2 separate regions of the Homo sapiens genome follow, and region 2 is linked to region 1. Evidence: fine-mapped expression QTL. A gene starts in region 1. The other region holds a variant in brackets. All regions are shown on one strand. Distances are between the middles of the regions. Region 1 holds the start of TMEM86B (transmembrane protein 86B). Region 2 holds the start of PPP6R1 (protein phosphatase 6 regulatory subunit 1).

Evidence for each region. PIP is the estimated chance that this variant, and not a neighbour inherited with it, causes the effect.
Region 2: its variant is fine-mapped to the expression of TMEM86B in unexposed skin (GTEx, PIP 0.97).

Annotation. Positions count from the first base shown.
Region 1 is chr19:55,226,325-55,231,680 of GRCh38, forward strand. It overlaps TMEM86B (transmembrane protein 86B), which reads right to left and starts at 2,439. Exons shown (of 3, transcript NM_173804.5): 1 at 2,367-2,439; 2 at 1,867-2,113; 3 at 314-1,239. The coding sequence starts at 2,417. The coding sequence ends at 857. PPP6R1 (protein phosphatase 6 regulatory subunit 1) reads right to left here. Exons shown (of 24, transcript NM_014931.4): 20 at 5,274-5,344; 21 at 5,086-5,167; 22 at 4,450-4,560; 23 at 4,289-4,360; 24 at 3,455-4,207. The coding sequence ends at 4,204. MIR6804 (microRNA 6804) reads right to left here and starts at 4,628; the gene lies at 4,561-4,628.
Region 2 is chr19:55,255,863-55,261,218 of GRCh38, forward strand. It overlaps PPP6R1 (protein phosphatase 6 regulatory subunit 1), which reads right to left and starts at 3,155. Exons shown (of 24, transcript NM_014931.4): 1 at 2,573-3,155. RefSeq lists silencers at 1,235-1,428, 2,613-2,672, 2,843-2,942, 3,073-3,352, 3,259-3,553 and enhancers at 2,403-3,377, 3,383-3,582, 3,613-3,662, 3,743-3,792. The variant A/G (reference allele first, on the strand shown) is at 2,224.

The sequences.
Region 1 (5,356 bases):
CCTGTGTCCCTAGAAGGATGCGGACACAGAGGGAGGCTGCCAGTTGAAGACAGTCACATGAAGACGGAGAGACACAGCCACAGGCCGATGGAAGCCAGGGATTCCCGGGAGCCTCCAGAAGCCGAGAGGGCAAGGACGGATTCTTCCCTGGAGCCTCAAGAGGGACCATGGGCCGGAAAACACCCGGATTTTGGACTTTGGGTCTCCAGAACTGCAGGAGAGTCCATTCATCTTGTTTCAAAGCATCTGGCTTGGGGTAATTTGTGACAGCAGCCTCAGGAAACTAACACAAAGACCAAACAGTCCTCTTGGCTCAGTTCTGCACAATCCTCACTTTATCCCCCCGAATCCCCCCACCAGAGGGCCATGGAGGGTCCCACTGGGCACCAGGCCTGGTCCATGGGGAGCGACAAAGAACCTTCTGCTGTCATTAACCGCGATGGTTTATCACAATCATGACCCTCCCCGAGGCCTCTCCTACGGTAACAGCAACATCTACGGTTCCACACCCACAGGGAAAACGGATTCAGAGCAGCAGCAGGGGGCGGGCAGGCTGTGGGGCCGACAGTGAACATGGAGGCAGGCTGGTGGCTGGGAGGGCTCCATGTGGGCCTGGCTGAGGAGCCAGGGATCTGGAGTCAGAACCGGGGGAAGGCAGCTGGAACCCAGTAGTGGACTTGGAATTCCGCAAATCGTCCTCAAACGTCTTCAGCCAGAAGCGACGGCGGCAGCGGCGCCTGCAGACAGGCGTCAGGAAGCTTCGCTGCTGAGGGTATTTCTCAGGCTGGGCTGGGCTGGGAGGCCCAGGTCCTTGCAGGAGGAGAGGGCCTGAACACCGGCCCTTCAAGCTCCCTAGTCAGTCAGTCTTGGGCACCGGGCTCCTGAGGGCTGACAGTGTGATGAGGAGCTGGGCAGCATAGTAGGTGGTCATGATCACCAGGTGGGCATGGGGCAGGGGCTGGGCGAAGGTGTCCCAGGCCAGCACGCCATCAGAGAGCGTGAAGAGCAGCGCGCCCCAGCCGGCACTCCCGCCCTGGGCCAGGCCGCGCCACAGCATGGCCATCAGGATCAGCCCATAGGCTGCCACCGGCAGGACCATATCCGGCTCGAGGTGCTGGAGCACAAGGCTGAGGTAGGGGCCAGGGGCCAGGATGATGAGCAGCAGCAGGCCGGGCTGCAGGGGAGAGAAGCCGAAGGCCCAGACGTAGAGGAGGTGGGCGGTGGCAAAGGCGGCCATGCCTGGCGGGAGAGGGGTGGGGTACCAGTGAGGAAGGCCCATCCTGGGAATGGCCCCGAGGTCACCCCTCAGGGCCTAAGAGAAGGACCATCCCAGAGCACCAGGCCCCACCCTGGCCGAGCCTCCTTGCAGGTCTCCCCACATGCAGTGTCCATCCTTGCTCTGCTCAGAACTGCCAGGAGGCCCCACCTTCCCTTGGCCTCCAAAGCCCCATGGCCTCCAGCTCTCCAGCCACTCTGCGCCAGCCACCCTGGCCTGCTGGGCTACAAGCACCTGACACGTCCCTGCCCCGGAGCCTTTACACTCGCCCTTCCTCCACACAGGCATACAGCCCTTCAGCTCTGCCCAAATGTGACTTCCTCAGTGAGGCCTTCCTCAGCAACCCTGCTTCAAACTGCAGTACCTCCAGCAGGTCCTCACTGCCCTCTGCGCCACCTCAGCTACTGCCCTAACACCGCCTGCCCCCACCCCTCGCTGGAGCGTGAGCTGCCTCGGTCACGGCTGCGCCCCCCACTGTGCCTTTGACCACTGGAGCTCTCACAGGAGCCCTCTGCACCCAGGCTCCCATCCAAGTGCTGGGGCCTCTCTCACACGGGCATCTGGAAAGCGTCACAGCACCTTCCACTCACCAGGGACGAAGGCTGCCGGCCAGATGAGGCAAGCGTCCCCCACAGCCGAGCACACAAGGGCTCCCTGGAGGAGCTGGGTGTAGCCCCCGCTTGGGGACATGACCCACAGGAACCCAGCCAGGCAGAGGACGGGCAGGCACTTGACCAGGGCAGCGAACCAGGACAGCTGGTCCTCGGGAATCCAGAGGCAGAAGTACACGCAGCAGGAGAGGATGAAGGGGCTCAGCCACCTGCAGACATCTGGGCGCTTTGGGGAGTGGGGAGCTACTGAGCCGAAACCCAGCCCAGCCCCCATTCTTGGGACTCAGATCTCATGGCTCCTGTCCCACCCCCACCTGGGACCCCAGCTGTACAGGCTGGACCCATTCAGGGACCAGGCTGCCAGAACCCAGCTTCCCAGGGCCCAACCAACTCAAGGACAGCAGCTCCCAGACCCGCCGGCTGCTGGGGTTCCAGGGCCCTGTCCCCCCAGCCCCAGGCACAGCTCAGAAGGCTCTCACCTGGGCTGAGCAGTGAGTCTTCAGGGTCTGCCCCGCTTTGCCAGCGTCCATGCTGGCCTGATAGCCCCAGAGCGACCTAATCTGGGAGCGAGTGGCTTCAGGGGGTGGAGGGGAGGGCTCATGGTTACACGTTAACCCAAGGAGCGTCCTGTGGACTCTGTGACTGATAACAGGGCCCAGGGAGATGTTGTCCTCACCCTGGGGATGGCCCTGCCTGGCGCCCGCTGATAAAGCACTGTTGGCACTGGGGGTCCCTCTGCCCTAGCCTGCTGGGACATGGCTTCCTCCTCCTATCTGCCTGGGGAGGTTAGGCCCACAAATGCCTGTCCCCTTGTCCTGGGCCCCAACAATCAGAAGAGATGGGGTGCAGAATTCCAACAGCCACCCCATCATGGGAAGCGGGAGAGGGGCTGGCTGGCAGGAGTGCCCCTGGAGGGATGGGAAGGCGAGTCTGTCCTTCACTTGCTGCCCTAGCCGTCTCCCTCCCTGCTCCATGAAACCTTTCCTCATTCTGCTCAACCCCACCAAGCCCTCAGGGGCTCCACCACAAACACTGCTTCAATGGGTGACCAGGAGGGACCACCACGAATGCGGGGAACAAGCACCCTCTCCTGTTAGCTGAGCGAGCCCCCAGGTGACCTCCAAGCCAACTGCCACCCCAGTGAGGACGCTGTCCTCATGGCCCGGTCCACACGCTCCGGTTTCCCAGCGCCGCTCACCGGTGCCACTCGCTGCACACGCAGCCTACACTTCTACCTTCTACCTGAAAGACTCAGACCTACTGGGCGCCAGTACCCAGCCTCAATGCTGGGCTTGGTTACTGGGGGTAAGCAGGGGCAGGAGCAGGGATTTGAGCCTGTCGGTGGCTTCTATCCTCTGCCCAAGGCCCTGCCCACAGGTGGGGTAGACCTGGCAGGAGCCCTCACAGCCAGTGCCTGGCCCAGCCTGGGGCCTCTGCAGCCACAGGGCTCCCTCTGGCAGGACAGTGTGGGGGCAGACTGGGTCAGGAGCACCCCCAGCCTCTGGGGTGCAGGGATAATACAGGCTCCCCACCCCGCATCCCAGAACGTAAGGTCTGACCAGCAGAATCGTAAACTGCCTTCCTTTATTTATATTTGCAATATGAAATAGAAGCTCGGCACAAACGCACGCACACTCACACCAGCCTGGGAGGAGGGAGCTGGGGACAAGGTCACTTGGCAACAGGGCTGGGACCTCAGACCCTCAAGGCCCCTGGGGCTGTTGCCGGGGAGGCCCCTGCTCCCCAGAGCCGGACTGGCCTGGTTGAAAGTGCAGGGTCTGGGCAAAGGCACGGCCCCCACTCGGGACCCTCTGGCACCCCCACCCACGCTGGGCCGTCCCCCATGGTGGACCTGAGCTAAAAGGCCGGGTGTGGGCGTGGCCGTCTGCGCTGCAGCGTGGGACAGCTGGGCACGTGGGTGGCAACCTTGGGACCCCTAACACCAGCTCCCGCTGGGACGGAACAGGGAAGGCTGTGCTTTGGAGCCGCCAGCCCAGTTCGGTGTCCTCACTCTCTCTCGCTCTCCTCCCTCTCTCTATATAATATATAATATATGTTTCTCTCTCTCCATTCTCTCTATTTGACTCTCTGTATCTTTATTCTAGGAGGCAACGCTCCAAAACTTCTCTTCTCAGTGCAAATGGGGGTGGGTTGGGCCTGTCTCCCTGGCACCAGCCTCCTGGGGGTCCAGAGGAGAGAATGTGGGGGTGTCAGGGTGATGAGGGCAATGGGGGCCATCGTGGGACCCGCCCTGCCCCCACCCCGGGAGATCCACGGGAGGACGGAAGATTTGGCCGCCGCTGCCGCACCAGGCAGCTATCTGGAAACAGAGGGAGATGTCGTGTGAGGGTCTAGCAGGCCCAGCCCCACCTACCCAGCCCGAGGCTGCAGCCACACTCACTGGGAGCCTGGGGATGCAGGCCCTTCCGGGGCAGAGCCATTGGGTATCGGAGGAGGCGTGAGGGCCTGGGCACTGTCAGGGGAGAGAGGGGATGTGCAGAGGTCACTTCCTGCCCCACCAGCCCCACCCCCACCCCCCCGCCCTGCTGCCCTGGTGCTCACCTCTGGCTTTGGGGAAGCCCCAAGGGCTCTGGGCTCTTCTCCCCTTCTGTGGTCTGGGGGGGCTGGTGGGCCCCGGAGGCTGGGACAGAGGTAGAGGGGTCTCTGGTTGCACTGTGGGTGAGAGGCAGGTGCGGCTGTCAGCGTGGCCCCCACCGTCACCTGCTGACACCCTCACATCCCACCCGACTGAAGTCGGCTCACTGGGTGTGTGTCTGCCACCTGCCCCACGGGGAGGGGCCTCCCGAGGACGCAGCTGGCTCAGCGTGGAGGGACAGCACAGCCCTGGACAGGAAGACAAGCACCCCTCTTCCCGCCTCCTGTCCCTGTGGAGGAGGTACTCGAGGCCGGCTGAGACAGCCCCAAAGGGTCTTCTGCATGCTCTCACCCTCCCAATCCTTCACACCCTCCAACGAGCCCTTCCCAACCCTGGGGCTCAAGGGCCCCAAGCATCCCAGGCTACTAAGAGAAGAACCAGCCTACAGAGTGCAAGGGGCTGGGGCACAACATGAGGCTGCGCCTGGGGGTCCTGCAAAGGAGGCCTGGAGCAGCTCAGGGACAAGATGAACCCAGAGCCCACCTCAGCGAAGAGGAGAAAAGACTTCTCCCGATACTAGGCAGCCCCACCTCGCTGCTCACCTGTCCGAGGAGCTGGGGGCAGAACGGATCCCGTGGAAGGTGGCCTGAAGGTCCCCGATGCTAACCAAGGCCTGGCAAGGGGCTGTGGGGGATAAGAGATCTCAGCTGCAGCTCCCAGCAAGCTCGGAGCTGGCCAGGCTGCTCTCTCTGCCCAGGGCCGCGGGTGGGCAGGGCAAAGCGGGGCTCACCTGAGGGCTCCGTGACTTTGCTGCCTTCTGTGGCTTCCTGAGGTGCTGAGGGGGGTGTGGGGTCCTGAGACCTGGTAGGCGAG
Region 2 (5,356 bases), 30 kb after region 1:
GCCGCTTCCACAGCATCCCGCAGTCACCCTGGAACAGCATGTGAGCCTCGGCTCTGTGACAGGATGTACCTGTTCAGTCATCTGCCTCCCCCTGAAACATGCCGACTTCCCAGGATCTAGCATAAGGCCAGGCCCAACTAAAGCTACTTGTTGAATTAATGAAAACTGAAGCCAGAGAAAGGTGTTCTGTTAAGAGCACTGGGCCACACATCCCACAAAAGAAAAAAAATGGGCAGGGGGACCAGACAAGCAGGTTCTCCTCTAATGGAAAGAAACAGTAGATGAACCAACAAAAGCTAATGGCCACAAAGATGGTGGTGACTCGCAATACACAACTCACCAACTCACAGCTCATGAGTCACAACAGAGCAAATAAGCCACAACGACACACCATACCCCAGCAGTGGAGCAAAGTTCTCCTCCTCTGCGCTGCTAACATTTGGGCTGGACGGTTCTTTTCGGTGTTGGGGCTGCCCATGCACTGGAGGACACTTAGCAACATCCCTAGCCTCCACCTCCACTCACCAGATACTGGCAGCATTCCCCCCAGTTGTAACAACCAAAAACATCTCCAGATATCGCCAATCGTCCCCCAGGGGACACAATCGCCCCCAGTTGAGAGCCACTGCAATGGACATTCCCAAATCAAATAATAATCGAAAGAACGGCCAGGTGTGGTGGTCCATGCCTATAATCCCAGCTCTCTGGGAGGCTAGGTAGGAGGACTGCTTGAACCCACGAGTTTGAAATCAGCCTGGGCACCACAGCAGGGCACCAGAGCAAGACCCAGTCTTTACAAAAAATACAAACATTAGCCAAGCGTGGTACAAAAACACAAAAATTGAGCAAGCATTGCAGGACGTGCCTGTAGTCCTAGCTACTTAGGAGGCTAAGGTGGGAAAATCACTTGAGTCCAGGAGTTCAAGGCTGGGCAAACGAGCAAAACCCAGTCTCAAAATCATCAACATCAAAACAGCTACTGATTGCAGAGTGTCATGTGCCTTGCATTCTGCCACAGGCTTCTACAAACCCTGCACTTAATCCCTAGATCCACCCTCTGAGGAGAGCAGTCTGCTATCCCCACTTACAGACGAGGAACAACTTGTCCAAGGTCTCGCTTGGCAGAAGCCGGACTCGGCCTAGGTCTGTCTGGCAAAAGATCCTCTAACAATTAGCTGGACTGCCTTCTCATGATCCCAATCCCAGAACTAGAGTTAAAAAAAAAAAAAAAAAAAAAGCATAACATTTTCAACAGCACAAGCAGCTCCAACAGCCATCCCACCACTAGTAAGCACACGTGGCCGGGCGCCGTGTCTCCATGTGTGTTGTGCATGTATGTAAACCAAGTCCTCATCCTGTGTTATCCAGGCAATCTCGAGTCCTTGCTGCATTTGCAGCGCACGCTAACAGTTAGACCCTCGCCCTTGGGCTGGATGAAATCCCACTGCAGTTTCTCTACAACTGTGAACCCAGTACCGCACCTGACAGTCTACGCAGCTTCCTTTCCTGAAACATCTTGCCTTTCAGGCGGGTGTCTATGGTCATGTCTGTGTGTACTACGAGCGAGCAAGAAAGACCCCAACCAGAGGTCCCATTCGAGGCCTGGATAAGCACGCCGGGCGGAACTACTCTGCCCCTCACCCTCCCAATACATCTGCACTCAGGACTCCGACCTTCCTTCCTTGACATATCTGCACGTGCTGCTCCTTCCCCCCCCGGAAGGCCCTTCTTCCCACTCTCCATCTGTCACCTCCTACTCATCCTTCCTAGACAGAAAAAGCCGTCCGTCCAGTCAGTCTCACCAGTGCCTCCCGCTCTGTGGCCCCCTGCAGCTCCCTAAGTCACCTCGATCACGACACGCAGGAATTGTGACTGTCCGGCTCTGCCTTTGTACCCCCTCCAGGGACCGGCCCCACCTCCAGGGCAGGGCCTAGGGCTGATGCCCCCTCCTCGGTGCCCAGCGCCAGGCTCCCTGCCTGCCCTCAGCAGGCTTCATCTCACTGAAGCAGGCCCGAGTGGTGGCTGCTCCAGAGAAGCCCCGCTCCCAGGTCCCTCGCACAAGAAGCCGGAGGCGGGAGAGGGTCGGTCAAGGTGAAAACAAGCCCCGCTCCTCCAGTCCTGAGCTCCGGGGATCTAAGGAGGCTGCGCCACGGAAGAGGTGGCGGGGCAGAGATCGGGGCGAGAGGGAAGGGTGTAAGCAGGCAAAGTCCAGGGTAACCAGGG[A/G]GAAAGACTCCTGGGGGGCCGGGGAACCGGCCAGAGAGGCAAGAGAGCGGAGCTGAGGCTCAGGGACTGGGGAGCGCAGCTGCAGAGAGCGAGTGGGAAAAGGCCGAGAGCAAGAGACTGAGACTAGGGTGGCGGCGGAGCTGAGGTGAAGAGATTAAGAGACTGGGGAGGGTCGAGGGGGAAGAAACGGGGTGCCGTGGAGAGGAAACCCGAAGGAAGGAGGGAAAGGATCCGAAGCAGAAAAGACCCGCGGGGGTCCCGAGAGGGAAAAGCCTGAGGGGACGCGGAGAGGGGAAGACGTGGGCGCCTGGCCCTGGAGAGAGAGGGTCGGGCGACGCGGGCCGCTCACCTGCGAGGGGGGGCGGCGGCTCCTCGCACTCGGGGCTCATCGGGGCGCCCCCCCCCGCCCCGCCGCCGGCGGCTCCGGCCCCTGCTGCGGGGCCCGGTGAGTGGGGGCGGGGGCGGCGTCGGGGACTCGCGCAGGCGCCGGGGCTCGCGGGGTCCGCGCAGGCGCCCGCGGGTCGTGGGGTCCTCGCGCGCCGGGTCCTGCAGAGTTGAGGGGGTCAGCGCCGGGTGGAGTTGCCGACGGGCGGGGGGCGTCACTAGTCCGCGTAGGCACCTCCGGGGTCCGCAGGCGAGGTGGGCGTGCGGGCCGAGGCGGGTTGGCGAGCCGGGTCGCGAGGCCCACGCAGGCGCCTCAGCCGGGAAGACGGGGGAAGTTGCCCCGGTTTCCACAGTCCAACCGAGCGCCCCACGGGAGGGGAAGGCGACCTCCTCCGCGGTCCAAACGGGCCGCAGAGCCGAGCAGCGACCGACGGAAGCCGAGGCCTACTTCCTTAACCACCCCTTCCCCAAAGCCGCTCAATCTCCGGGCTCTGCGGCCGGCCTCAGGGCCTCCGACGCCCGGCTCCCTCCGCCACTATCCCACAATCCCCCTAGCGCAGGACGACGCAGGAGGCCCCGCCCTCCCGCGGCTGTGTTGGTGCGCAGGTGCGGGGGGCGGGGTGCACGCCTGGGCGGTGCAGTGCGCGTGCGCCCGGGCGCTCCCGACACCGCCCACTCTTGAACCCCGCCGCCGCAGACGCGCTTGCGCCCGTTGGTGCCAACGGTCTGCCCCGGAATAAACCCAGACAGCTCAGTGAGCCGCAGCTGCGCACCGGCTCCGTTCCAAGGCCCCGTGAATATTCCGCTCCAGGATTTCCCTTCCCACTCGCTCCGTTTGGAAATCCGTTCGCTGTTCTGTCTCCTCTAATCATAGTGGAGCTTTGGCTCCAGGGTCGGGCTCTTGCGAAATCCAGACCTGGTTTTCGCTCCAGCCAAAGCCAGGCGCCTTCGTTCCGTCCGGCTCTCGCGCTTAGCCGCCTCCGAGCCTCAGAGGCCCTCAGTCGTTTCCGTCTGCTGGCGATAGTCCCGGCCGGGTCGCTGGTGTTGCCAGTTCCGCCCAAAGCAGCTTCTAATAGCATCAACTGAAAGAGACCTCCTAGACCTTGTGTCTAGATTGATGAAGGTCCCTCTGGCTTTGAGCCTCGGTTTCCCCAACTTTAATAGCTCCCCTCTCTACCCATGTTAGAGGCCTACTGTAAAAATCGTGTGGGCGCGAGGAACTTTTTTGTTTTTGTTTTTGTTTTAAGACTCCGAATTGGCCGGGCGCGGTGGCTTACGCTTGTAATCACAACACTTTAGGAGGCCCGAGGCCGGAGGATGGCATGAGACCAGGAGTTGGAGACCAGCCTGGGCAACCTAGGGAGACCCCCGTCTCTACAAAAGAAAATTTAAAAAATTAGTTGGGCCTGGTGGCCCGCGCCTGTGGTCTCAGCTATTCGGGAGGCTAAGGCAGGAGAATCGCTTGAGCCGAGGCTGCAGTGAGCCGGATTGCACCACTGCACTCCATCCTAGGAGACAGAGCGAGAACCTGTCTCAAAAACAAAGGGCCCAGCGTGGTGGCTCACGCCTGCCTGTACTTGAGCTCAGGAGTTCAAGACCCCACGCCTATAATCCCAGCACTTTGGGAGGCCGAGGTGGGCGGATTGCCTGAGCTCAGGAGTTTGAGACCAGCCTGGGCAACACAGTGAAACCACGTGTCTACTAAAATACAAAAAATAGCCGGACGTGGCGGTGTGCGCCTGTAATCCCAGCTACTCAGGAGGCTGAGGCAGGAGAATTACTTGAACCCGGGAGGTGGATGTTGCAGTGAGCCCAGATCAGGCCACTGCACTCCAGCCTGGGTGACAGAGCGAGACTCCGTCTCGAGAAAAAAAAAAAAAAAAAAAAAGAGCAAATTCACCCCTCCTTTGCCCTCTTTGTTCTATTGAGACCCTCAATGGATTGGATAATGCCAGCTCACACTGGGGAGGGAAGATCTTTATTCAGTCTACCGATTCAAATGCTAGTCTCTTCCAGAAATACCCTCATAGACACACCCATAATGTTTTACCAGCTATCTGGACATCCCTTAGCCCAGTCAACACCTGAAATGAACCATCACAGAGAGGCATTTCCTTTTCTCTTTTTTCTATAGAGATGTTTTGTCTTTTACCCAGCATTTGGCTTCCTTGTTTTCTCCACAATATGATGGCATCATTGCCACACTGTTTTAACACAGAGGTCAGGAACTGAGGGATAAGGATGTGGCTATAGTCCCTACCCTTCAAATGGAAGCTGGGAAGCTGTGGGGGCTTTAATGACTGAAGTCTGGATTTCCACCCAGCAGAACTCACAGATATACATTGTGTTTGCATTAGAATTGAAACTTTTTTTTAAGAGACAGGGTCTGGCTCTGTCGACCAGGCTGGAGTGCATGGCACGATCACAGATCACTGCAGCCTCGAACTCCTGGGCTCAAGCAATCCTCTCGCCTCAGCCTCCCGAGTAGCTGGGACTACAACTGGAACTTTTTTCTTGAGACAGGATCTCAGATCCTGCAGCTACCTCTCAATTTATCCTGGATTTAGGAAGAGGAGTGATAAAAACCAATCCAAATAGACTCAAAAATCCCAGATCCACCAGAACAATCCACACAAAAGGAATGAGTCTGACATCAAATTGTCCTAGGAAACCAGGATACAAGAAAGAGGAGGATTGGCCGGGCATAGTGGCTCACACCTGTAATCCCAGCACTTTGGGAGGCCGAGGA